Homo sapiens: one gene and its partners. The protein of the gene in region 4 purifies or fractionates together with the protein of the main gene of each other region. This does not show direct contact. Each region holds a gene or a part of one and is shown on either strand. Other genes may lie near its edges. The genes, in order: DAB2IP, NECAP1, RNF170, RAB4B, ARHGAP39 and SENP8.

Region 1 (3,294 bases), on a different chromosome or scaffold from region 4:
GCGTTAGAATCTTTTTTTAAACCATCACTCAGAGGAAGGATCACCTTTTCTTTCAGGGTGAGCACCAGGTGGCACTCCCTACAGGACCACTGTGCCCTGGGTGTGCTGGGCCCCAGGAGAAGGCAGATACAGTGCTCAGAGCCATCTGGCCAGATCCGCCCAGATCTCTGGCTTCTGGGAGCCCTAGAGCATCAGCCTGGGCCTGTGTGGGAGGTGTGGGAAGCTGTGGGTCCTCCCCACAGGGACAAGAGCTCACAAGAAAAAGCCATGGCCCTCACTGGGTCTATCTGGCAATACAACTAAGGCAGGGAAGAAGGTAGCAGGTGGTGCTCTGGGGACAGGTTCAGAGGGGGTGGGTGGGTAGGAATCCTCAGTTCCTCACAGCCAGGAAGGTCCCAACAGGCTGCATGCAGTGGCAGGTGCTTCGGATGGAGACAGGCAGGGGACACTGACCTCCTGCTCTGTGTCCTCCTATCTTCCTGCCTGCCAACTGATCTGCCAAGTGCCAGGTCCCACATGACAGGGCCTGGCTGCCAGGGAGTCCCGGGCCCCCCAAGGAGGCGAGGGGAAGCCACAGGTGTAGGCCCCTAGCCCTTGAATCCCCCCTCCAGGAAGCCCCCTCCCTGGCACAGGTGTGGGGGGACACATGCACTCGGCCAGATCCAGGAGGACAAGGACACACCACATTCAGGAACCAACAGACATATTTTTGGCAGGCCCCCTGCCCCATCAGGCTGTCCCCACTCCCCAGCGTGCAGTCTCTTCTGCCCGCACCCCACAGGGAGCGGCTGGTGACCTCGCCTCACGCTGCTTCAGTCTCTGGTGGCTCCCTCTGCGGCCGCCTCCTGGACAGCGGCAGGGAGGGGAGGCTCGGCCTCCTGACACCCGCGCTGGGGCTGCAACCGTGGGTGCCTCCCCAGGCCGAGACCCTGCCCTTGGCCACCATAGTCCCCCTCTCCTTGGGTAGCTTCCTCCCTCCTCAGGCAGGTTAACAATTGCTGCTGTTTCTGAACTCGCCGTTCTCAGTAATCTGCAATTTGGTGGGGTTGGTGGGGGAGATGCCGTTACGGGCTTGCATGCTGTACCTCTCTTTCAGCTGGGTCAGGGCACTCATGAGGCGGGCATTGGCGGCATCCAACGAGGCAATGCGCTTCTCCTGTGGACAATGGGGATGTGAGCGGGGGTCATGGGACAGGCTCCTTAGGGCTGTGTATACCTACGACAAGCATCGGGGAAGGGGGTGGCCTGGAGATGAGGGTGGCAGGCAGGCTCCGGGCTGTGAGCAGCTGGCAAGAGAAGGTAGGCAGAGGCCTCTGCAGCATCATGGACACAGCCTCGCTGCCTGCTTATCAGCCCAAATGCAGCAGCTCTAGTGCTGTCTATGGGCTGCCTGCGGCCCCTAGGGCAGGCACCCTTGCTCACATGTGTGTGCATGACACACCAGAGGTCACAGCTCCTGGTCTGTGCAGTTTACAGCCTGAGCAAGGCCCAGCCTACTCCTGGGTGAGTGAAAGGAAAGCGGTGCAGCCCTGAGTAAAGGAGGCTGGGGCCACAGAGCCTTTCACGTCTCCCCTCAATGCAGCCCGGATGCCATAGTTGTGAACGAGAGCCCCACTGCTCCCTCTGACCAGCCTGCCTTCACTCCTACCCCCACTGCCCTCCTGGTGGCTTCCACTCTTTGGTCAGCAGTCCTGGTGAAAGACAATGCCCGCCAAGAGCCCTGGCAGGGGAGGAGCTGCCTCTCTCCTTTCACAGCCTGTCCTAGTGAGCTTGTGGCCCACTAAGACCACAGGTCTGACTTCTCAGGGCAGATTCTGGTTTCTTATTCCCCTCAGTGTCTGCAGTGAGGTATGACTGAGGATGGAGAGGCTAGTCACCCCTCCTAATCCCAGGCCCTTTAACTCTTGTGGCTGACCAAAGGGCCGGAGCCCCCACCTGGGCATCAATGATCTTCTGTTTGGAGTCCACAGCCGCTTGCATCTCTGCGTGGTCCTTCTTCAGTTCTTCCTCCACGGACATCAACCTATAGCCAGAGACAGAGACAGTCAGACTGGCCCTGGAGGCAGCAGAGGTGGGGAGGGTGTGAGAACAAGCCCATCACCCCCGCACACAGCAGGGACACACTAGGAGAGCCCCTCCTTGGGTCAGAGACTTGCCTCCCATACTTGCCTGGGGCAGAGGCCCTCCAGCCGACTCCCAGCAACTGACACTGCTGGGCCTCCTTCCTCACCTCCACATCCCACACTCGCTGCTCCTAAAGCCCCAGAGGCCCCCGGGCTGCCCCTTTCCCGATGTTCTTCCAGGAGCCAAGATGGGTGGAAATGGGCATTAGATCTTCAAACCCCTAGAGCTAGGCAGGTGGTGGAAAGACGAAGGCCCTGAAAGGCTCTAGAACTTTTTCCACCCTGCCCCCGCCATCTTCACAAAGTTGTACGCGAGGTGCCAAGATGAATGAACTCTAGTCCTTTCCCTCAAGGAGTTCACAAGGCAGGAGGCACGAGTAACTAACTACACCCTGCACGGAGCAGCTGCGCTAGTGGAAAGCTCAGGTCCCTGGAACAAAGAGCAGGAAGCAGTGACGTTCCCTGGAGGGTGGGCTGGGAGGTCGCACATCAGTAGGAGACATCTGAAGGACAGGTGTGCAGGCAGAACAATGAGCAGTAGCTGGGGGACATACCACCCGCGGAAGCTCAGTGGGCAGGAGGCCGGCTCCGTCCTGCTGCTCCCTGCCTGGGAGCCCTCCTGGCCCCACCTGGCTGGTTCCTGAGACACTCTCACTGCTGGGCACTCCCACCTTCCCACTCTCCTTTGGCTTTGAGACCCCACACTCTCTGGGTCTGCCTGTCTCCTAGATGCCTTGTCCTGTCTGCCTCTGGACATGGGGGTCCACAGGGCTTTGGCCTCAGCCTCCCTTCTCCTTGCTCCACACACTCTTAGATGAGCCCTCCACTCCCAAGGCTTCTCTCCATCCCTGCCCTCTTGATTCCTCCAGCCTAGAGCAGCCACCGCACACTGGGCAAGCACTTAGCCCACTCACAGAAGACACACAGGGAGCCACTGTGCCGGGGCCGGTTCTGCACGGGACTGTAATGGGGGCAGCAGGGCAGCAGTTCAGGGAGCACTAACTGGGAGGAGCGGTGGTGGCGGGGGGGACCCTCCGGGGCAGGTTCCCCAGTACAGGAAGGTATCACTCTGAGGAAAGCTTGTGCTGGGGGTGGGGTGGCAGGAGGGTATTTGTTTTATTAAGGAAAATTAGATTGGAAGGAGATTGTATTTACTCTCTTGTCTTAAAAA
Region 2 (4,096 bases), on a different chromosome or scaffold from region 4:
TAACAGAAGATAGAAAATAAAAAAGAAACATAATAAACAGCATAATTAGTATCTTAGAAAGTGGTGAGTTCTAAGGTAAAAAGAAAATGTAGAGGCAAATTAGGAAGATTAAGAAGACAGTGGGAGAATGAACAAGTTGTAGCATTCAAGAGGGTGGTTGGGGTAGGTCTCATTAAGGTGAAATGTGAGCTAGAATGTGAAGCAAGAGAGTTATCCATACAGATGTCTGGGGGAAAAGCATTCTAGACATAAGGAACAGCTAGCCCAAAGGTGCTACGGTGGGGGCATGCCTGGCATGTTTGAGAGACAACAAGGAAGCACTGTGGTTAGAACAGAGGAAGAGACAAGGTGGGAGAGGTAACAGACGGCCAGATCACGCAGGGCCTTGTGGGTCATAGTAACAACTTCAGCTTTCACTCTGAGTGAAAAAAGAGCTATTACAAATTTTAAGCAGAGGTGTGACATGATCTCCCTTATATTCTAAAAAGATTACTACATCTGCTGTCTGGAGAAAAGCTGTTGGGATAAGAGGACTGAAGCAGGGGGATTAGCTAAGAGACTACTGCAGTAATCTAGAAAAGTCACAATGGTAGCAGAAGTGGCTATATTCTGGATATATTTAGGGTAAAAGTAGCAGGATTTTCTAATGGATTAGATATGGGATAGAAGAGAAGGATATATTTAGGGTAAAAGCAGCAGGATTTTCTAATGGATTAGATAGGGGATAGAAGCCAAGGACAACTCCAAGGTGTTTAGCCTGAGCAAAGAGTTGCCAATTATTGAGATGAGAAGGAACACATCTAGGAAGAAGGATCAGGGATTCAGTTTTAAATATGCTGAGTTTGAGATGTCTAGTAGATTTTCAAGAGATGTAGAGTAGGCAGTAAAATATATGAGACGAGTTCAAGAAAGACATCTGGGCTGGAGATACAAACGGCCATGAAAACATCAGAAATTTATAAAACGTGTTATAATCAACTTGAACAACAACTAAGATTATTTATGATGAATTTTACAAAACATTGTATTTGTGATTTGTTTTGCCAGGAGTATGGAAAACAGATTAGCAAAGTAAAAGTTATTAATAATTCATCTTCTAAGAAACCAAAGACTAATACTTAAAGACTAAAAAAGCAACCACAAGGTATATTTGAACAAGAATGAGTTTAACAAGATGAGAGGTAAAAAGCTGAAAGGAGGAAAATGAAAGTGAAAATTAGCACAGGTTTTGAACAGGATCTGTAAAATAAGTCCTTCCCATTCTCTTCCCTCTTGATTCCCTGCCCTCAAAGACCCTCAAGTACCTAAATCTGATCCAGATTAGAGAGCTCTAAAGTTCCTCATCTATTATATTAATGAGTTATTACTTATTATAATCATGCCACCAAGAGCTCATGTAAATGGGCTATTAAAAATATTAGGAACAGCCAGGCACCGTGGCTCACGCCTATAACCAGCACTTTGGGAGGCCAAGGCAGGAGGACTGCCTGAGCCTAAGAATTTGAGGTTGCAGTGAGCTATGATCGCCCCACTGCACTCCAGCCTGAGCAACAGGGTGAGACCCTGTCTCTAAAAAAAAAAAAAAAAAATTAGGAACAAGTCTATTAAATGTGTTTTTCTTGGATGAGTTCCTTATTTCTCTTGTGTATCTAGTGTCCGATACTTAACAAATTCTGTAAGTAAATGGATATTCATGGCAGCAGATTCCCTCAGCCTTGAGCCTTAGTTCCTTTCCTACTCCAAGACCTAATCTAAAGAACTCTTGATTTTGCTTGTCCTCTGACAATACTTTTAACTTACCTTACAAATTTTCATTTACCTTAGTAATAAAACTTTATATATATATAAATAAAAAACCACTATGATGATTCACAGTAAGATTCCAAATGTACATCTTATTATGTCCTTATAGTAGATATGTGAAATAGGCATGAAAAGCCTGTCATACCTCTCTTTCTCTCTAAATGATGGAAAGGATAACACAGTAAGTAATAATGCCTAACTTTAAAGTCCATTATTCTTTCATTACACTGAAACGCATTATAGAGGTTAATATTGATTTAGCTAAGGGAAGAGGGTAGTGAAGAATTTTTTTTTAAAAAAAAATAGTTTTATAGGTTGGAAAACTGTTTTCTAACCATTTATTTATTTGTGTGTGTGTGTGTGTGTGTGTGTGTGTGTGTAATAGAGTCTCACTCTTCCACCCAGGCTGGAGTGCAATGGCGCGATCTTGGCTAACTGCAACCTCGGGTTCAAGCAATTCTCTTGCCTCAGCCTCCTGAGTAGCTGAGATTACAGGCACAGGCCACCATGCCCAGCTAATTTCTTTTGTATTTTTAGTAAAGACGGGGTTCCACCAAGTTGGCCAGGCTGGTCTCAAACTCCTGACTTCAGGAAATCCGCCCGCCTTGGCCTCCCCAAGTGCTGGGATTACAGGAGTGAGCCACCGCACCCAGATTGTTTTCTAAGCATTTGTAAGTTTCCTTTTTGTTTGTTTTGAGACGCAGTCCTGCTCTGTCGCCTAGGCTGGAGAGCAGTGGCATGATCTCAGCTCATTGCAACCTCCGCCTCCCGGGTTCAAACAATTCTACTGCCTCAGCCTCCCAGGTAGCTGGGACTACAGGTGTGCGCCACCACGGCTGGCTAAGTTTTTTGTATTTTTGTAGAGACGGGGTTTCACCATGTTGGCCAGGCTGGTCTGGAACTCCTGACCTTAAGTGATCCGTGCGCCTCGGCCTCCCAAAGTCCTGGGATTACAGATATGAGCCACCGCACTCAGCCTGATAAGTTTCTTGTCAACCCAAATTTTCCTTCCCATAGTCTAGAAGTCTGGTCAGTGAAAGTCTGGGAACGAACAGCTTACACTAGGTGAATTAAAATCAATTATTCTCTCTAATCTTACCAGTCACTCAAAGGAAAAATTCCTCCTGCTTTCTAAAAAGCCCAGTTTGTCCTTTAATGTCAGCCTAGAGAATAAATCCTGCTTATAATATAAAGTGGGTTCTGGTAAATAAGAAAGATTATGCAAACAAAAAGAAAACCAGCATTTATCAAGCATTTATTATGTGCCAGGCATTATGCCCATTCTCGTGAAAATTAAGTGAAAGGGCCAGGCGCAGTGGCTCATGCCTGTAATCCCAGCACTTTGGGAGGTTGAGGTGGGTGGATTGCCTGAGGCCAGGAGTTCAAGACCAGCCTGGCCAACATGGTGAAACCCCATCTCTACTAAAAATACAAAAAATTAGCCAAGCATGGCAGTGCACATCTGTAATCTCAACTACTCAGGAGGCTGAGGCACGAGAATCAGTTGAATCTGGGAGGCACAGATTGCAGTGAGCCATGATCACACCATTGTACGCCAGCCTGGGTGACAGAGCGAGACTCTGTCTCAACAACAAAAAAAAAAAAAAAAAAAAAAAAAAAAAGAAGATTAAGTGAGAGGATCCTACAAGGTAAGTATTGTTATAGTCATTTTTACAAATGAAGAAACTAACATTCAAAAGTGGTGATTTGCCAAAGGTAACCCAGCAAATAAATATCGTTATTCAAACTTAATTCCGCTCTCTTCATGTGCTGTACTAAAAAAGTGATTGATGATAAGGTGCCTCTTGGAGGATAAAAAATGCCAGTAGACATGGAAAACACAGAAGGATAACAGGAAAAAGAGGAAAATTAAGAAACTGCTTTAATGGCTCAGTGCAGTTAACTGATGTAAGTATAAAGGTTGTGGAAAACTAAGAAGTGAAGATAGAGAAGATGGGTGAGAGGGGAGGTGTTTTAAAAAGCTTGAAGTAGGCCGGGTGCGGTGGCTCACGCCTGTAATCCCAGCACTTTGGGAGGCCAAGGCAGGCGGATCACGAGGTCAAGAGTTTGAGACCAGCCTGGCCAACACAGTGAAACCCCGTCTCTACTAAATATACAAAAATTAGCTGGGCATAGTGGCACGTGCCTGTAGTCCCAGCTACTTGGGAGGCTGAGGCAGGAAAATCACTTGAACCGGGGAGGCGGAGGTTGTGGCGAGCTGAGATTGCGCCAGCGCACTCCAGCCTGGGCAACACAGCCAGACTCCATCTCAAAAAAAAAAAAACTTCAAGAA
Region 3 (4,096 bases), on a different chromosome or scaffold from region 4:
TTTTGGTGTTTTTTCTAGAGATGGGGTTTCATCATGTTTCCAAGGCTGGTCTCAAACTCCTGGGCTCAAGTGATCCACCTGCCTTGGCCTCCCAAAGTGCTAGGATTATAGGCGTTAGCTACTGTGCCTGGCCAAGATTTCTCATAGTCAAAGAATACTTGTTGGTAAACCTCACTTTACAAAAGAGAAGAAATGTGTCTTCCTCTAACTTTGAACATGCTTTAGCATTACTTACAGATCTGGGTTGCCCTGAGAATCTCCGGTTATAATCATTAATATCCTGATGCAATCTCAGAACATCCTGAGACTGATCATCTTCACCAAATACTGTTAGGAGTAAGGTTACCTGTATATTACAGAAAAAAAAATTATTTCAACTTTCTGCATCATTATGTTTTTTTCATTTTGTGTTATTATTCAATAGAATGATAAAGGCTTCTATATTTATATTTCACTCATTTTTAAATAAAGGCAACCTGGGGGAGGGGAGTAAGTAACTGCTTTGCAATAAAATCCAATGCAACATAGAATTTGAACTCCTATAAAATAGACACCATATCCAACTACTGGCCTAATATTTTCCTGTCCACACCAGGGGTAAATTCCTTAGTTCTCTATTTGGGCTAACAGATATTTGAAGATAAAAGAAGGATGAGGAAACATTCAGGAGGAAAGTGACATAAAATATATAACTGTCACTTTAAGACAGAAAAATTATGGTTTTCTTTTTCAGTATTAAAATAATGATTGGTTATTCTTACTGGTATTTGAAAGATCTTTGAATGCTACCAACCATAATATAAAGATTATGTTATTGCAGGGACCAGCTCTCAAACACCAATTCCTACTATAATAAAAAAAAGAAATTTTTGATATTGTCATATAACATAATACATTTAACCCTGCTTCCTTCATGGTTGTGGTAACAAGGATGTACAAATGTCCCAGGACCATACTGGGGTAATCTGACGGTGACAGTACCTTGAAAAATAAATACACTTTAGGACGTAGCACCCTTATAGAAAATGGTCACTAATGATTGTATGATGACATAAAAACGGGAAGGAGTGGTGGCCGATTTAGTTTTAAATCATTTAGTTGTTGTTTTGTCCTTCCTCAGTTCAGCTGTAAAACCAAGGCTTCCCACTGTTTAGATGCTTTCCAAACAGCTAAAAGAAGGCGTGACTAAGCACAGAAGGTGGTGAGAACAGCAGGTGCAGCCATCACTTCCTTCACAAATTTGTTAATAAAAATGCATTCTTTCAATACACATTAATGGAACACCTATGGCGGGCCAGGCACTCTGCTTAGTGCTAGGTATGCCAGAAAAATGAAGTCAAAAGCCTGCTCCAGGGTGACTACAACACCCACAAGGAAAGGGGAGGAAGACCTGGCCGACAGCCTTACATGGTCCTGGGGCAGGTGCAAGAATGCTGCTGTGAGAGCGAGGATCTCTTCTGCCTGGGGTGGTCAGAAAGCCTGATACTGAGCCAAACCTGGAAATGGTGGTAGGACTGTGGCTGGTGTGCACGCATTCAAGGGGAGAAGTGGTGAATGTGTTCCAGTCAGAGGCGGCAGCCTGTGTATTGCTATTTCCATGACCATTTACTGAAGGGGCTACTGAAAACAGGAGGTAGAACAAGCATTTGCCATCTGTCTTGCCTCCAGGATGAATTACTCTTATCTTAGGGAACCAAGACCTATTATATTAAGACAACTTTATCTCGACCTTCTGAGCCTCTAGTCAATTTATGGATGGTACACAGGATACCACTGGCTACTGTACACATGTCCTATGAAAAGCCATGGGCAGAACCAAGAAGAGGGAGGGCCTGGAACTATTTTTTTAATGTAAGACCTACTCCCTAGTTTGGATGTTGCTGACCGAGAGCAAAAGATGCCAAGAAGTAGTACGGGCAAATAAGCTTCAATTTAAAAAAAAAATTTTTTTTTGAGACAGTCTCGCTCTGTCTCCAGGCTGGAATGCAGTGACACCACCTCGGCTCACTGCAACCTCCACCTCCCAGGTTCAAGTGATTTTTCTGCCTCAGCCTCCCAAGTAGCTGGGACTACAGGTGTGCGCCACCATGCGCAGCTAATTTTTGTATATTTAGTACAGACTGGGTTTCACCATGTTGGCCAAGATGGTCTTGATCTCTTGACCTTGTGATCTGCCCGCCTCAGCCTCCCAAAGTGCTAGGATTACAGGCGTGAGCCATCACGCCCGGCCATAAGCTTCAATGTTGACTGCCTTGTGTCACGCATCAAATCAGCCAGAGAGGCATATAGAAACATCAGTTTTCCTCCTGACCATGTGGCCACAAGTAAAATATGAAAGAGGCAGAATTTGGGAATGTATAAGCAAGAATGGTAAGAAAATGACTTGGACCTCCCTCTTTGCACCAAAATAAGAGGGCAGTTGAGGGGAAACAGACAGCTACAATAAAGGCTGAAGGAGAGAGAGAGAGAGAGTGTGTGTGTGTGTGTGTGTGTGTGTGTGTGTGAACATTCCACCCACGGGTAAGTGGAGGAATACTTTTTTTTTTTTTAGTGTGTGTGAACATTCCACCCATGGGTAAGTGGAGGAATACTTTTTTTTTTAGTGATGTAATCTCGTTCTATTGCCCAAGCTGGAGTGCAGTCCCATGATCATAGCTCATTGCAGCCTCAACCTCCTGAGCTCAAGCAATCCCCCCACCTCAGCCTCCCAAGTAGCTGGGACTACAGGTATACACCACCACACCTGGCTAATTTCATTTTTTAAATTTTTTTGTAGAGATGGAATCTCATTTTGTTGCCCAAGCTGGTATCGAACTCCCAGCTTCAAGTGATCCTCCTGCCTTGGCCTCCCAAAGTGCTGGGATTACAGGCATGAGCTACTGCGCCCACCCTGTATTTTTATTTTAAATGAAAAATAAATATAAAGGAAATTATGAAAAACAGTGTACAACTGACACAATGTCCTATTTTGTCATACTTAAAAACTGAGAATATTGGTTTCTCAGAATTGTTCAGTATTTCATTTCTCCAGTTTATCAAAGAAATGGAGAGAATTTGGCATGTCTCATCTGCAGTGACATTTCAGTCTCACGTTCATGCTTACTTACTGCCTCCCTCCTCAGGTGGCTTCGATGCTAACTGTCATGGTCTAAGCTGTTCTGGACAATGCAATGTGGCCATGTCTCTAAAAGGAATGAAACATTAAAAAAAAAAATCATTATATACCATTTAAAGCTATCTGGGTCCTCACTGGAAAAAGACAGATTAAATATACATTGAGAAGGAAAAAAATTTTTTTTCAAAACAAGTATATATGCATATATAGAGGATATATGCTCAAGCCTGATTGTCTTTCACTACAACTGTAGGATTTCAAATAGGATTCCCTTTTGTAGTGGTATCTCAGTGACAGTTTTAAAAAAATAATCGTGGGCCGGGTACAGTTTAAAAAAAAAAAAAATCGTGGGCTGGGCGTGGTATCTCATGCCTGTAATCCCAGCACCTTTGGAGGCTGAGGCAGGAGGATTGCTTGCGTTCAGGAGTTTCAGACCAGCCTGGGCAATGCAGGGAGACCTCATCTTTACTAAAAATAAAAAAATTAGCCAGGCATGGTGGCACATGCCTATAGTCCCAGCTACTCAGGAGGCTAAGGTGGAAGGATTGCTTGGGCCCAGGAGGTCGAGGCTGCAGGAAGCTACGATCATGCCACTGCACTGCAAGACCTTTTTTCAAAAAAAATAAAAAAAAATAAAAATAATAATAATAATATATGGTGACATCAAAGAAGATTTGGATAAATGAAGTTCTGCTAAAAAGACAATAATAATTCCAAATGTAGATACAAAAACTATAAAAATGTACAAAATAAACTAGCATAAATGATACTTTCTGCACACAAAACATTACCGTTTGTCTACAGATTGGACAACTGATTGCCCCAAGCCATGAACCATATCGCCAGTAAGCAATAATGCAGGCACCTAATAGACAAAACAAAACAAACACATAACCCATTAATATTGATGTTTTAAAGTCCACATATCCTCAGAAAGATTCAACTATTTGAAATATTTTAACAGTACCACGTTATTTAAAA
Region 4 (4,096 bases):
AAATCACGTTGGCTCTGCCTTCCAAGTAGATCCAAGGTCTAACCACTTGTTCCCCACCTGTCCCACCCTGGAGCTGCCAAGGGCTGGGAGGGGATTTAGCATGAAGTATAGAAGGGAGAACTGGCAAGACATACACATCCCCCAGAGAAGGAGGGATGGGACCAAATCCTGCAGGGTTTTGAAAGCCTGTCAAGAAGTTTGGGGCCGGGTGCAGTGGCTCATGCCTATAATTCCAGCACTTTGGATGCTGAGGTGGGTGGATCACTTGAGGCCAGGAGTTTGTGAGCAGCTGGCCAACGTGGTGAAACCCTGTCTCTACTAAAAATATAAAAACTTTGCCAGGCGTTGGTGGCCCATGCCCATAGTCCCAGCTACTCAGGAGGCTGGGGCACCAGAATTGCTTGAACCTGGAAGCGGAGGTTGCGGTGAGCCGAAATCACGCCACTGCACTCCAGCCTGAGTGACAGAGACTCTATCTCAAAAAAAAACAAAAGTTTGGACCAAGCCTGGAGGAACAAGTAGTGCTGCCTGGAGGAAGGAGGTTGCCAGGGAAAAGAGGGTAGGAATGTTCCAAGCAGAGGCCCAGCATGAGCAAGGGCCCAGAGGAATGGGAAGAACTTCAGTGTGGCTGGAGTGGCCTGAGAGGTAGGGAGACCGACAAGTGGCTGAGGCCGGTAAGGCTGGGCTGGCAGGGGCCAGTCCCTGCAGAGGGTCAAACACCAGGCTGAGGAGTTCATTTGTGTCCTGGGGCCCTGAGATGCATGGATGGTTTTGAAAAAGGGAGCGACAGGAGCAGATATGTGTGTTAGAAAGACCCAGTGGCTGCATCAAAAGGAGACAGGATTGGCAGGGCACAGTGGCTCAGGCCTGTAATCCCAGCACTTTGGGAGGCCAAGGCGGGTGAATCACCTGAAGTCAGGAGTTCAAGACCAGCCTCACGAGCATGGCAAAACCCTGTCTGTATTAAAAATACAAAAATTGGCCGGGCGCAATGTCTCACGCCTGTCATCCCAGCACTTTGGGAGGCCGAGGCAGGTGGATCACGAGGTCAGGAGATCGAGACCATCCTGGCTAACATGGTGAAACCCCATCTCTACTAAAAATACAGAAAATTAGCCAGACGTGGTGGCACGCACCTGTAGTCCCAGCTACTCGGGAGGCTGAGGCAGAAGAATCACCTGAACCCAGGAGGCGGAGGTTGCAGTGAGCCGAGACTGCACCACTGCACTCCAGCCTGGGCAACAAAGCGAGACTCCATCTCCAAAAAAAAAAAAAAAATACAAAAATTAGCTGGTTGTGGCAGTACATGCCTGTAATCCCAGCTACTTGGGAGGCTGAGGCAGGAGACTCACTTGAACCCGGGAGGCGGAGGTCGCAGTGAGCCAAGATGGCGCCACTGCACTCTAGCCTGGGTGACAGAGTGAGCAGAGTGAGATTCTCTCTAAAATTAAAAAAAAAAAAAAAAAAAAAGGAAAGGCTCATGCCTGTAATCCCAGCACTTTGGGAGGCCGAGGCAGGAGGATCACGAGGTCAGGAGATCGAGACCATCCTGGCTAACACCGTGAAACCCCATCTCTACTAAAAAAAATACAAAAAATTAGCCGGGCATGGTGACGGGTGCCTGTAGTCCCAGCTACTCAGGAGGCTGAGGCAGGAGAATGGCATGAACCCAGGAGGCGGAGCTTGCAGTAAGCCAAGATCGCGCCACTGCACTCCAGCCTGGGTGACAGAGCGAGACTCTGTCTCAAAATAAAAAGACAGGAACCAAAAAAAAAAAAAAGAGAGAGGCCAAGACTGGAAGACAGAGAGTCTAGGGAGGACATGAACCCTATTCCCTTCTCAGCCACTCCTCTTCCCGCCCCCTTGTCCTGTCCTCCACCATCTTCCCTGGACTTTGCAGCAGCTTCCTCTCTGGTGTCCTGGTGACCTCCTCTGTCCCTCACAGCCCCTTCCCTTTATGCAGCCAGAGGAACTCTCTGCACCCCTGAATCTGATCCTGTCCTTCCTCTGTTCAGAAGCCTCCCATGGCTCCCACACAGGGTATAAGCCAGAGGCCTCCCCAGGGCCCACAGGCCCTAACTGATCTGCTTCCTCCAACCCCTGACCCCATCTCATGCTGTACCCACAAAACACACACAGGTCCTCCATGATGACCACACTGGCTGCTTTGGTCACCCTCACCGACACCAGGCATACCCCTCGCTAGAAGCGTTGCTGTGCTCTCCAGCAGTGCTCTTGCCCCAGATCCCCACAGGCCTCCCTATCTCCCTTCCTTCACTCAAATGTCATCTTCTCAGCGAGGCTTCCCTCCTCATCTTGTTTAAATGTACACTCTTGGCCAGGTGCGGTGGCTGACGCCTGTAATCCCAGCACTTTGGGAGGCTGAGGTGGGCGGATCACGAGGTCAAGAGATCGAGACCAACCTGGCCAACATGGTGAAATGTCTCTACTAAAAATACAAAAATTAGCTGGGCATGGTGGCACGCACCTATAGTCCCAGCTACTCGGGAGACTGAGGCAGGAGAATTGCTTGAACCCAGGAGGCAGAGGTTGCAGTGAGCCGAGATCGTGCCACTGCACTCTAGCATGGCGACAGAGTGAGACTCTGTCTCAAAAAAAAAAAAAAAAAAAAAGGCTGGGCGTGGTGGCTCCCGCCTGTAATCCCAGCACTTTGGGAGGCTGAGGCGGGCAGATCACCTGAGGTCGGGAGTTCCAGACCAGCCTGACCAACACGGAGAAACCCCGTCTCTACTAAAAATACAAAATTAGCTGGGTGTGGTGGCACATGCCTGTAATCCCAGCTACTCAGGAGACTGAGGCAGGAGAATTGCTTGAACCTAGGAGGCAGAGGTTGCGGTGAGCTGAGATCGCGCCATTGCACTCCAGCCTGGGCAACAAGAGTGAAACTCCATCTCAGAAAAAAAAAAAAGTACATTCTTGGCCGGGCGCAGTGGCTCACGCCTGTAATCTCAACATTTTAGTAGGCCAAGAGTGGGTGGATCACTTGAGGTCAGGAGTTTGATACCAGCCTGGCCAACATGATGAAACCCTGTGTCGGCCAGGTGCGGTGGCTCACACTGTAATCCCGGCACTTTGAGAGGCCGAGGCGGGCAGATCACAAGGTCAAGAGATCGAGACCAGCCTGGCCAATATGGTAAAACCCCATCTCTACTAAATACATAAAAATTAGCCAGGCGTGGTGGCGGGCGCCTGTAGTTCCAGCTACTCAGGAGGCTGAGGCAACTTGAACTCAGGAGGCAGAAGTTGCAGTGAACCAAGATCGTGCCACTGCACTCTAGCCTGGGCAACAGAGCAAGACTCCATCTCAAAAAAAAAAAAAAAAAAAAAAAGAAACCCTGTCTCTATAAAAATTAAAAAAAATTAGCCAGGCATGGTGGTAGTCGCCTGTAATCTCAGCTACTCGGGAGGCTGAGGCAGGAGAATCACTTGAACCCAGGAGGCGGAGGTTTCAGTGAGCCGAGATCACGCCACAGCACTCCATCCTGGGTAACAGAGCAATACCCCATCTCAAAGAAAAAAAAAAAAGTACACTCCTCCACCCTATCCACTCATCTGTGCCTGTTTTATTTTTCCCCATAGTTCTTACCTCCCTCACTACTACATACTTTACTTTTTTTTTTTTTTTTTTTTTTAAGAGTCTCGCTCTGTCACCCAGGCTGGAATGCAGTGGCGCATGGTCACAGCTCACTGCAGCCTCGAACACCTGGACTCAAGCCATCCTCCCACCTCAGCCTCCCAAGTAGCTGGGACTCCAGGTGCACACCACCACGCCTCGCTAATTTTAAAAAACTTTTTGTGGAGATAAGGTTGCTTTGTTGCCCAGCCTGGTCTCAAAGTGATCTTCCCATCTCACCCTGCCAAAGTGCTGGGATTACAGGTGTGAGCCACTGCGCCCAGTCGACTTACATCTCTTGTTTATCACCTGTCTCCCCCAAAGAGAATGTCAGCACCATGAGGATGGGAGTCTGTTGTACTCCCTGCCATATCCCCAGTGCCTTGAGCAGGGCCTGGCACACAGCAGGCGCTCAATAAATCGCTGGAGAACTATGAATGGGAGGGTCAAGGTCTAGGGCAG
Region 5 (4,096 bases), on a different chromosome or scaffold from region 4:
CTTGCTGACTTCAGGAGTGAAACTGCAGACCTTCGTGGTTAGTGTTACAGCTCTTAAAGATGGTGCGTCTGGAGTTGTTCATTCCTTCCGGTGGGTTTGTGGTCTCGCTGGCCTCAGGAGTGAAGCTGCAGACCTTTGTGGTTAGTGTTACAGCTCTTAAAGGCAGTGCATCTGGAGTTGTTCGTTCCTGCCGGTGGGTTCGTGGTCTTCCTGGCTTCAGGAGTGAAACTGCAGACCTTCGTGGTTAGTGTTACAGCTCTTAAAGACGGTGCGTCTGGAGTTGTTCATTCCTTCCGGTGGGTTCGTGGTCTCGCTGGCCTCAGGAGTGAAGCTGCAGACCTTCGTGGTTAGTATTACAGTTCTTAAAGGCAGTGCATCTGGAGTTGTTCGTTCCCTCCGGTGGGTTCGTGGTCTTCCTGGCTTCAGGAGTGAAGCTGCAGACCTTCGCGGTGAGTGTTACGGTTCATGAAGATAGCATGTCCAGAGTTGTTCCTTCCTCCCGTCAGGAGTTGTTCTTCCCTCCCAGTGGGTTCATGGTCTCGCTGGCTTCAGGAGTGAAGCTGCAGACCTTCTCGGTGAGTGTCACAGCTCATAAAGGCGGCGCGGACCCAAAGAGTGAGCACCAGCAAGATTTAGTGCGAAGAGCAAAAGAACAAAGCTTCCACAGCATGGAAGGGGACCCCAGCGTGTTGCCGCTGCTGGCTTGGGTGGCCTGCTTTTATTCCCTTATCTGGCTCCACCCACCTCCCACCGATTGGTCCATTTTACACAGAGCTGATTGGTCCGTTTTGACAGGGTGCTGATTAGTATGTTTACAAACCTTCAGCTAAACACAGAGTGCTGATTGGTGCATTTACAATACTTTAGCTAGACACAAAAGTTCTCCAAGTCCCCACTAGATTAGCTAGACACAGAGCACTGATTGGTGCGTTTACAAACCTTGAGCTAGACACGGGTGCTGCTGACTGGTGCGTTTACAAACCTTGAGCTAGACACACGTGCTGCTGACTGGTGCGTTTACAAACCTTGAGCTAGACACACAGTGCTGATTGGTGCGTTTACAAACCTTTAGCTAGACACAGACTGCTGATTGGTGTGTTTACAAACCTTTAGCTAGACAGAAAAGTTCTCCAAGTCCCCACCCGACCCAGAAGCCCAGCCGGCTTCACCTCTCAATGGTGGGACTTCACGGCACCTAGCCCGGGCACTCCGGCAGCCCAGAGGAAGCTCGTCCCAGATCAAGCCCAGCAGGCGCCAGCCACAGCACCGGCTCCCGCCCACGCCTCTCCCTCCACACCTCTCTGCGAGCAGAGGGAGCCGGCTCTGGCCTCGGCCAGCCCCAGAGAGAGGCCCCCACAGCGCAGCAGCTGGCTGAAGGGCTCCTCCAGCGTGGCCAGAGCGGACGCCGAGGAGGCGCCGAGAGCAAGCGAGGGCTGCCAGCACGTTGTCACCTCTCACCTCCACGCCCAGCTAATTTTTGTACTTTTAGTATAGACAGGGTTTCACCATGTTGGTCAGGATGGTCTTGATCTCTTGACCTCATGATCCGCCCGCCTGGGCCTCCCAAAGTGCTGGGATTAGAGGCCTGAGCCACCGTGCCTGGCCTGCATATTTTTAAGGTTCACACACGTTATAACATGAATCAGTAACTCACTTCCTTTTATTGCCAAATAATATTCCATTGCAGGAATGGACCACATTGTGTTTATCCGTTCATCCGCTGATGGACATTTAGGTTGTCTCCACTTTCTGGCTGTTGTGAACACTCATGGACAAGCTTCTGCGTGGACGTGTATATTTCCAGTCACTCAACCAAAAGAACACACAAAAGGTGAACCAGTTTCCAACTGAGACATTCATTTAATTTGACCTACTATATTATTTAAAATATAGAGAGATGAGATAATTAGGAGAAATAAATGACCAAAGGAAGTGCAGAAATAAAGACACTAAGAGACAAGAGCAAACCCTGATGTGACGGAATAAACGGTGATTGAAGAAAGAGATGCTATTTCTAGGATGGGTCCTACAGGTACATTTGCAAAACACTGTGCCTATAGCCTTGCTGGTAACAGCATGAAAATTCCACAGCACCTCCATACAGCCAAATACAGTGCGGCCATGGAAAGAATGTACCGGAAAATGTACTGATATGGAAAGATCTCTCAAACATAGTTGAAAAAGGCAAGGTTCAGAAACTTTTTAAAAAGAAAAGGGTAAGGAAAAAAACAGAATACATACACTTGTTTGCTTGCAAAGTTACAAAGTATCTCTAGAAGGATACACAAGAAGCTGGTCCAGCAAAGCTTCCAGGGGAACCAGGTTCCAGGGTAGAGACTAGGAGGCTTCACTGAGCTCCCTTTGTACTTTTGAACCACGTATATTATCTGCTCAAAAATGTTAAACAAAATTGAAACTTTCTAGGAAGCAAAAATAGAGAATCTGTGAGAATCAAGACATTTACACTTAGGAAAGCAAGTTACAAGAGAGGCCCAGGAAGATGGAAGCAGCCGACGTGGGAAATGTGTCAACGAGTCCCTCCCCCTGCTGCGCCAGCCATTCTCTGAGGGCAACTCCCCATCCTAAACCCAATCATCTTTACTGAAGCCAGTGCTCAAAGAAAATGTTGCAATCTGCAGCAAGACATTCAGAACACAAACAGCCAAGTGCCATGGCTCATGTCTACAATCCTGGCACTTTCGGAGGCCGAGGTGGGAGGATCACTTGAGCCCAGGAGATGGAGGCTGCACTGAGCTGTGATCATACCACTGCACTCCAGCCTGGACAACCCACCCTGACTCTCTCTCTAAAAAAAAAAAAAGAAAATACAAATGTATCTGCTGCCCTCAAGGACTTCCCAGTCTAGAGGGGAGAAAATATTATGTGATTGTGCAGTGACCAAAAGCACCACCTAGAGCACTACGAGAGGGGGTGGAGCACCTGAGGACAAGGCAGCGATCCAGGAGGCGCTCCCACAGACATTACCTGAGTCTGAGTCAAAGGGCTGAAGGAACCAGTGAGCTTGGCTTAGTTTTGGAAGGAGGGACGCCAAGAAAGACTTGGCCCATGACCACATGGCAGTTTTTCTGGAGAGCAGAGTAGGTTGGGGTCACGCAGCGCTGTGGAGCATGGTCCAGGAGGCACTGGGGAGCCAGGGAGGAGAGCCAGGCAGCAGAGTCACTCGCCTAGACGCTCTGAGCCTGGCGCCATCCTGTGCACTGTAGGATTTCAACAGCATCCCCAGCCTCCACAAATCCTTGGCCATCCCCTCCTAGTTGGGACAACCAAAAATGTCTCCAAATATTGCCAAATGTGGCAGGAGGGCGGGGAGTGGTGTCAGAATCACCCCTGGGGAGATCACTGCCCTGTTTATATCATCTGAGCAGCTATGTGGCAGAGACAGGGGAGTGGCTCAAGGCTGGGGCAGGAGAGCCCCAGGAGGTACAGCGTAGTGCAGGAGGGACATGGTGCAGGTCCCACTCAGGCAGGGGTTCTGATCACTGTTCAGGGGGAACTGGCAAGAGGACCTGGAGCCGTACCACATGGCAGCTGAGAGGGGGACCCAGCACGCCAAAATTCTAGGTGGTGACCAAGCAGGTGAAGGTCCCAAAGCCCCAAAGGGTTGAGGCCAGAAGTGAATGTGGGTGCTGAGTCTGAGCCGCCTCAGGGGCTCTCGCGCATGGTGGCCGGCTCCAGCGTCCAGCATCTGCGGCTGAGGGGAGACATCCAGCTGCACCTTCAGTCATGGTGAGATGGCCCAGACAGCAGGTACGGGCTCCTCAGCTCTGCTCAGCACAGCGTCCGAGCAGGGGCTCACCTTCCCCATAGGAGGCTGTACGTCACACCCTGCTTTGGTCCGTGGACCCTGAGATGCCAGTCCAGGATGGTGCCGGAAAAGACACTAGGTTTCTGCCACTCTCTTGCCATAAAAACAGCATGTGCCACATAAGGCCTGGTCCTGGATCTGGAAATGAAGACTCTTGGAAAAGAGTCACAAGCAAACGAAACGCGGGCAGGAATCAGCCTCTGCTGCTGTGAGCGCTGCAGTGCTGGGGTTGCTACTGCAACTCGCTCTGGAGAAAGCTGTCCAGTAAAC
Region 6 (4,096 bases), on a different chromosome or scaffold from region 4:
GTCATGTAACATGAATGGTATGTGGTCAAGCAGGTGTGTAACTTACCGGGTACTATAGTATCCAGTGAAATACAAGTCAATTCTTAAATTCTCCTGCAATTTATAATGCTAACATTTACAAATGACATACTCAAAATTTCATAGGAGGACACTAATCTGTGGCACAGTCCAATCAGGCTAATGCATTTGGAAAATGCATTTTTTATATATATGTAGATAGATTACATATACATGTCTATACGTGTGTATATATATTTTTCTATATATATTTAAAAGACTAGTGTAGTTTAAAAATTTACTTATAAATTTACTTATAAGATGAATCGTAGGGAGTTAGGAAAGATTGCTTTCATATGCTTTAATTCTCAGATTGAAGATACTCTGATATTTAAATAAACATACTTTGCATTGTCAGAAAGATAACTTTTCCCAGAGAGGATTTGACTTTAATAGTCTAGATTAGCTGCCTAAGTCAACAGTCACTGAAATAACATTGTTTTCTTATCTTTATCTACACTTGTGGCCTATCATCAGTGACCTTTGTCACTTCTCTTGCTGTCCCTCCCTCTGTATTTCACCTCTATGGATGACTGCCAGTTCCTAATCTTTTTCCTAGCCCCATCTTCCATTAGGACTGGTTTTTATCCAAAATGTACCGACTTGAAATGGAAACTTTTTTTGATAGCTTTCTCTTTGACTTTTAGTTTCAGCTCCTGCTCACTCAGGCCTGCTATGTAACCTGTACTTATTTACCCTTACTGTGTTTTCCCTTCTCGGCTAAAAGGAACCAAGTTACTTTCTCTGTGGTCACTGAGTGGTGAGGTTATTTTGGGCCATGAGGGCTGGGGGCAGGGTTAGGCTGGGGAGGTAGCTGAAATAAGTTTCATGGCTGAAGCTCATCTTTGGTTTTCAAGTCTCATAGGCCTTGCAATCTAATTCTCATTAGGAATAGAATTAATTTGTGTACCTAACATGTCATCTGGTTGTTTACTATTTGAAACAACTGAAACACATCAGTGCTTCTGGAGGGATAGTATTTCGTTCTACTCTTGGTTCCACATTTTACAAATTACATTCCCTGCATTTTTAATTAAGTAAAAGGGCTGAGAAAGGTCACTTTTCTTCCTTTATATTTAAAAAACAAACCAACTCTAAGTCTGTTAAGTTTCAGATACAAAAATCATCCTGAAATTACCATGACATAACTAAAAACAATTCTGCCAGAATTAAGGACAGAGAGGAAAACCTATAACTATCAGGAAGAACAAATGTTTATCTGAAACAACAGGTAACCTTGGGAAGGTATCAACTATGAATTTTAGAACCAAAGAACTTTGGATATAAGGAGGAAGTGTGTGCATGGCTAATAGACAAGGCAGAGAAAAGCAGTTATTAATCCAGAGTAGCAAGTCTACCCAATCAGTGAGCAAACTGAGAGGTCCACCAGACATTAATTTTAATGAGGTTACTCAAGATTTCCCCTTTCTTCAAGCATTCCAGGAATCAGATGGAGGAAGATAGGGTAACATCATCTTTATCAAATATTTGCAAACATTATATAGATAGCTGGAAAAGCCTGTGCATGGTGAATGGAAGAGATGTCACATAAAACCGAATAACTGAGTCTCATAATATTTAGGTCTTGAATGAAGTTAGGCCTTGATCTGCTTCCAGCCAGTTGATCTCTTAATTATGTAGGCTGTGCAACAAGTTTTTGGTTCTGTTTTATAGTTTTCTTCTCTGCATTCCTCTAGATTTAATATATTCTTGATTTGTTTTACAGATCACTGCTTTTCCTCCAGAATAAGCCAATGTGGATAAGGGAGACCAAAGGAAATTAATTATATACCAATAAGAAAAGTCTTACGTAAACCCTGTGTGTAATAAATGTTCAAATAAGTTGGTTGTAAGGTTTTGGTGTACAATTTCAAGATATTTTCACAGAACATATTGCTCCCCAGTCAGGGTTAAAGTGAAACGTTCCATGGGGATAATGCAGAGGATGATATTCTTTCAGGAAAAAGAGTATTAAGCTTTCCTCTACTAGGCATCTTCCCTCAGGCACTGAGATTGCAGCCATCCAACAAATGGGGAAGGGCAGAAAGAGGAGCCTTCAAAAGTCGCAAATATACTTCAATAGCTACTTTTTAGCAAGTGTGGTAATGAGATCTTTCCATTCTCCCCTCTTCTTTGTGATGTATGCAGGGGTGAGTAGCTGCAGCAGTGATTCTGTCTGTTGCCTAAAGAAGTTCTGACACAAGGCCTCAGTGTTACATATCACGTACATCCCACAGTCATAGCTGTTTTGTTGGGCAGGGGCTTTCTCTTCCACAAAGGCCAGTTTGTCTCCTTTTCTGCCTAAGAAAGCCTCCAGTTTCTCTGCTACCTGCTTTGCGTGAACTGAGTTGCTCCTGCTATGGGAATCATAATGAAAAAAGCTATTTTTATCTTGGAGGTAGACCAATAAACTCCAGTGGGTTCCTCCAGCTGCCTGGTTGGAGTTATCATTGATGGCTAAAAATACAACTCTCTTGTTGGGGAGGTCCAGTGGTTCAAGGAACATGGCAATCTCTGCTGGGTTGCTAGTGCACTTGATGAACTGGGTGACTTCAGGGCTGATGAAACTGACGTGATCAGAGCAGTCATGAAACTGACTGTTGGCAAAGTACTCAAACGCAAACCCAATAATATGGTCATTGAGCCAGCTTGGCGGATCCAATAGTGAGACATCTGATTGCCGCAGTAGACTGTCCATGTAACTCAAGACTACGGGGTCCATCTTGTACTGACGAGGGCTGCTCAGAAATTCCAGAAGCTGAACAAGAGCTAGAAGACAATATTATTGTCAATAAATACCTGACTGTAAAATGCGGCTGGAAAATAGTAGTTACTTTTATAGGGTTGTGGTAAAAAAATACACAGTTGACCCTTGGACAAGGTGGGTTTGATCTGTGCAGATCTACTTACACATGGATTTTCTTTTGCCTCTGCCACCCCTGAGACAGCAAGACCAATTGCTCCTTTTCCTCCTCCTCTTCAGCCTACTCAACATGATGATGAGGATGAAGACCTTTATGACGATCCATTTCCACTTAATGAATAGTAAATATATTTTCTTTTATGATTTTCTTAATATTTTCCCCTAGCTTACTTTTTCGTAAGAATGCAGTTTATAATACATTAAAAAACATGTGTTAACTGGCTATGTTATTGGTAAGGCTATGTTATTGGTAAGGTAACGTGTTAATTGGCTATGTTATTGGTAAGGTTATTTGTAAATGTATATAATACATTTACAAAACGTGTTAATTGGCTATGTTATTGGTAAGGTATATATTATGCAGTATATAATACATTTACAAAACATGTATTAATTGGCTATGTTATTGTTAATTGGCTATGTTATTGGTAGTAAAGTTTTTTTTTTTTTTTTTTTTTGAGATGGAGTCACACTCTGTCGCCCAGATTGGAGTGCAGTGGCACGATCTCAGCTCACTGCAACCTCTGCCTCCTGGGTTGAAGCGATTCTTTTGACTCAACCTCCTGAGTAGCTGGGATTACAGGCATGTGCCACCATGCCCGGCTAATTTTTTTTTGTATTTTTAGTAGAGACAGGGTTTCGCCATATCAGCCAGGCTGGTCTCGAATTCCTGACCTTGTGATCCGCCCGCCTCAGCCTCCCAAAGTGCTGGAATTACAGGCGTGAGCCACCGCACCTGGCGTATTTTTTTAGGGAGTCAAATCCTACACCTAGGCTGGGTGCTGTGGCTCACGCCTGAAATCCCAGCACTTTGGGAGGCCAAGGTGGGCAGATCACTTGAGGTCAGGAGTTTGAGACCAGCCTGGCCAACATGGTGAAACCCCATCTCTACTAAAAATACAAAAATTAGCCGGGCGTGGTGGGGCATGCCTGTAATCCCAGCTACTCGAAAGGCTGAGGTGGGAGAACTGCTTGAACCTGGAAGGTGGAGGTTGCAGTGAGCTGAGATCATGCCATTGCGCTCCAGCCTGGGCAACAGAGCAAGACTCCATCTCAAAAAAAAAAAAAAAAAAGTTATACCTAGAATTTTGACTGCATACGGGGGTTGGCACTCCT

The links.
Region 1: the proteins of RAB4B (region 4) and DAB2IP purify together in Homo sapiens (affinity purification with mass spectrometry; one large-scale study listed by BioGRID and IntAct). This does not show direct contact.
Region 2: the proteins of RAB4B (region 4) and NECAP1 purify together in Homo sapiens (affinity purification with mass spectrometry; one large-scale study listed by BioGRID and IntAct). This does not show direct contact.
Region 3: the proteins of RAB4B (region 4) and RNF170 purify together in Homo sapiens (affinity purification with mass spectrometry; one large-scale study listed by BioGRID and IntAct). This does not show direct contact.
Region 5: the proteins of RAB4B (region 4) and ARHGAP39 purify together in Homo sapiens (affinity purification with mass spectrometry; one large-scale study listed by BioGRID and IntAct). This does not show direct contact.
Region 6: the proteins of RAB4B (region 4) and SENP8 fractionate together in Homo sapiens (co-fractionation; one large-scale study listed by BioGRID). This does not show direct contact.

What each region holds. Positions count from the first base shown.
Region 1 is NC_000009.12:121,780,193-121,783,486, reverse strand, and holds part of DAB2IP (disabled homolog 2-interacting protein), read right to left. Parts: intron 2,024-3,294; coding exon 1,936-2,023; intron 1,157-1,935; coding exon 989-1,156; 3' UTR 1-988. UniProt on the Homo sapiens protein: Functions as a scaffold protein implicated in the regulation of a large spectrum of both general and specialized signaling pathways.
Region 2 is NC_000012.12:8,085,016-8,089,111, reverse strand, and holds part of NECAP1 (adaptin ear-binding coat-associated protein 1), read right to left. Parts: intron 1-4,096. UniProt on the Homo sapiens protein: Involved in endocytosis.
Region 3 is NC_000008.11:42,861,510-42,865,605, forward strand, and holds part of RNF170 (E3 ubiquitin-protein ligase RNF170), read right to left. Parts: intron 3,981-4,096; coding exon 3,907-3,980; intron 3,185-3,906; coding exon of another isoform or gene 3,142-3,184; exon of another isoform or gene 3,104-3,141; intron 347-3,103; coding exon 236-346; intron 1-235. UniProt on the Homo sapiens protein: E3 ubiquitin-protein ligase that plays an essential role in stimulus-induced inositol 1,4,5-trisphosphate receptor type 1 (ITPR1) ubiquitination and degradation via the endoplasmic reticulum-associated degradation (ERAD) pathway.
Region 4 is NC_000019.10:40,788,039-40,792,134, reverse strand, and holds part of RAB4B (ras-related protein Rab-4B), read right to left. Parts: intron 1-4,096. UniProt on the Homo sapiens protein: The small GTPases Rab are key regulators of intracellular membrane trafficking, from the formation of transport vesicles to their fusion with membranes.
Region 5 is NC_000008.11:144,675,463-144,679,558, forward strand, and holds part of ARHGAP39 (rho GTPase-activating protein 39), read right to left. Parts: intron 1-4,096.
Region 6 is NC_000015.10:72,138,307-72,142,402, reverse strand, and holds part of SENP8 (sentrin-specific protease 8), read right to left. Parts: intron 3,092-4,096; exon of another isoform or gene 2,968-3,091; intron 2,827-2,967; 5' UTR 2,780-2,826; coding exon 2,141-2,779; 3' UTR 1-2,140. UniProt on the Homo sapiens protein: Protease that catalyzes two essential functions in the NEDD8 pathway: processing of full-length NEDD8 to its mature form and deconjugation of NEDD8 from targeted proteins such as cullins or p53.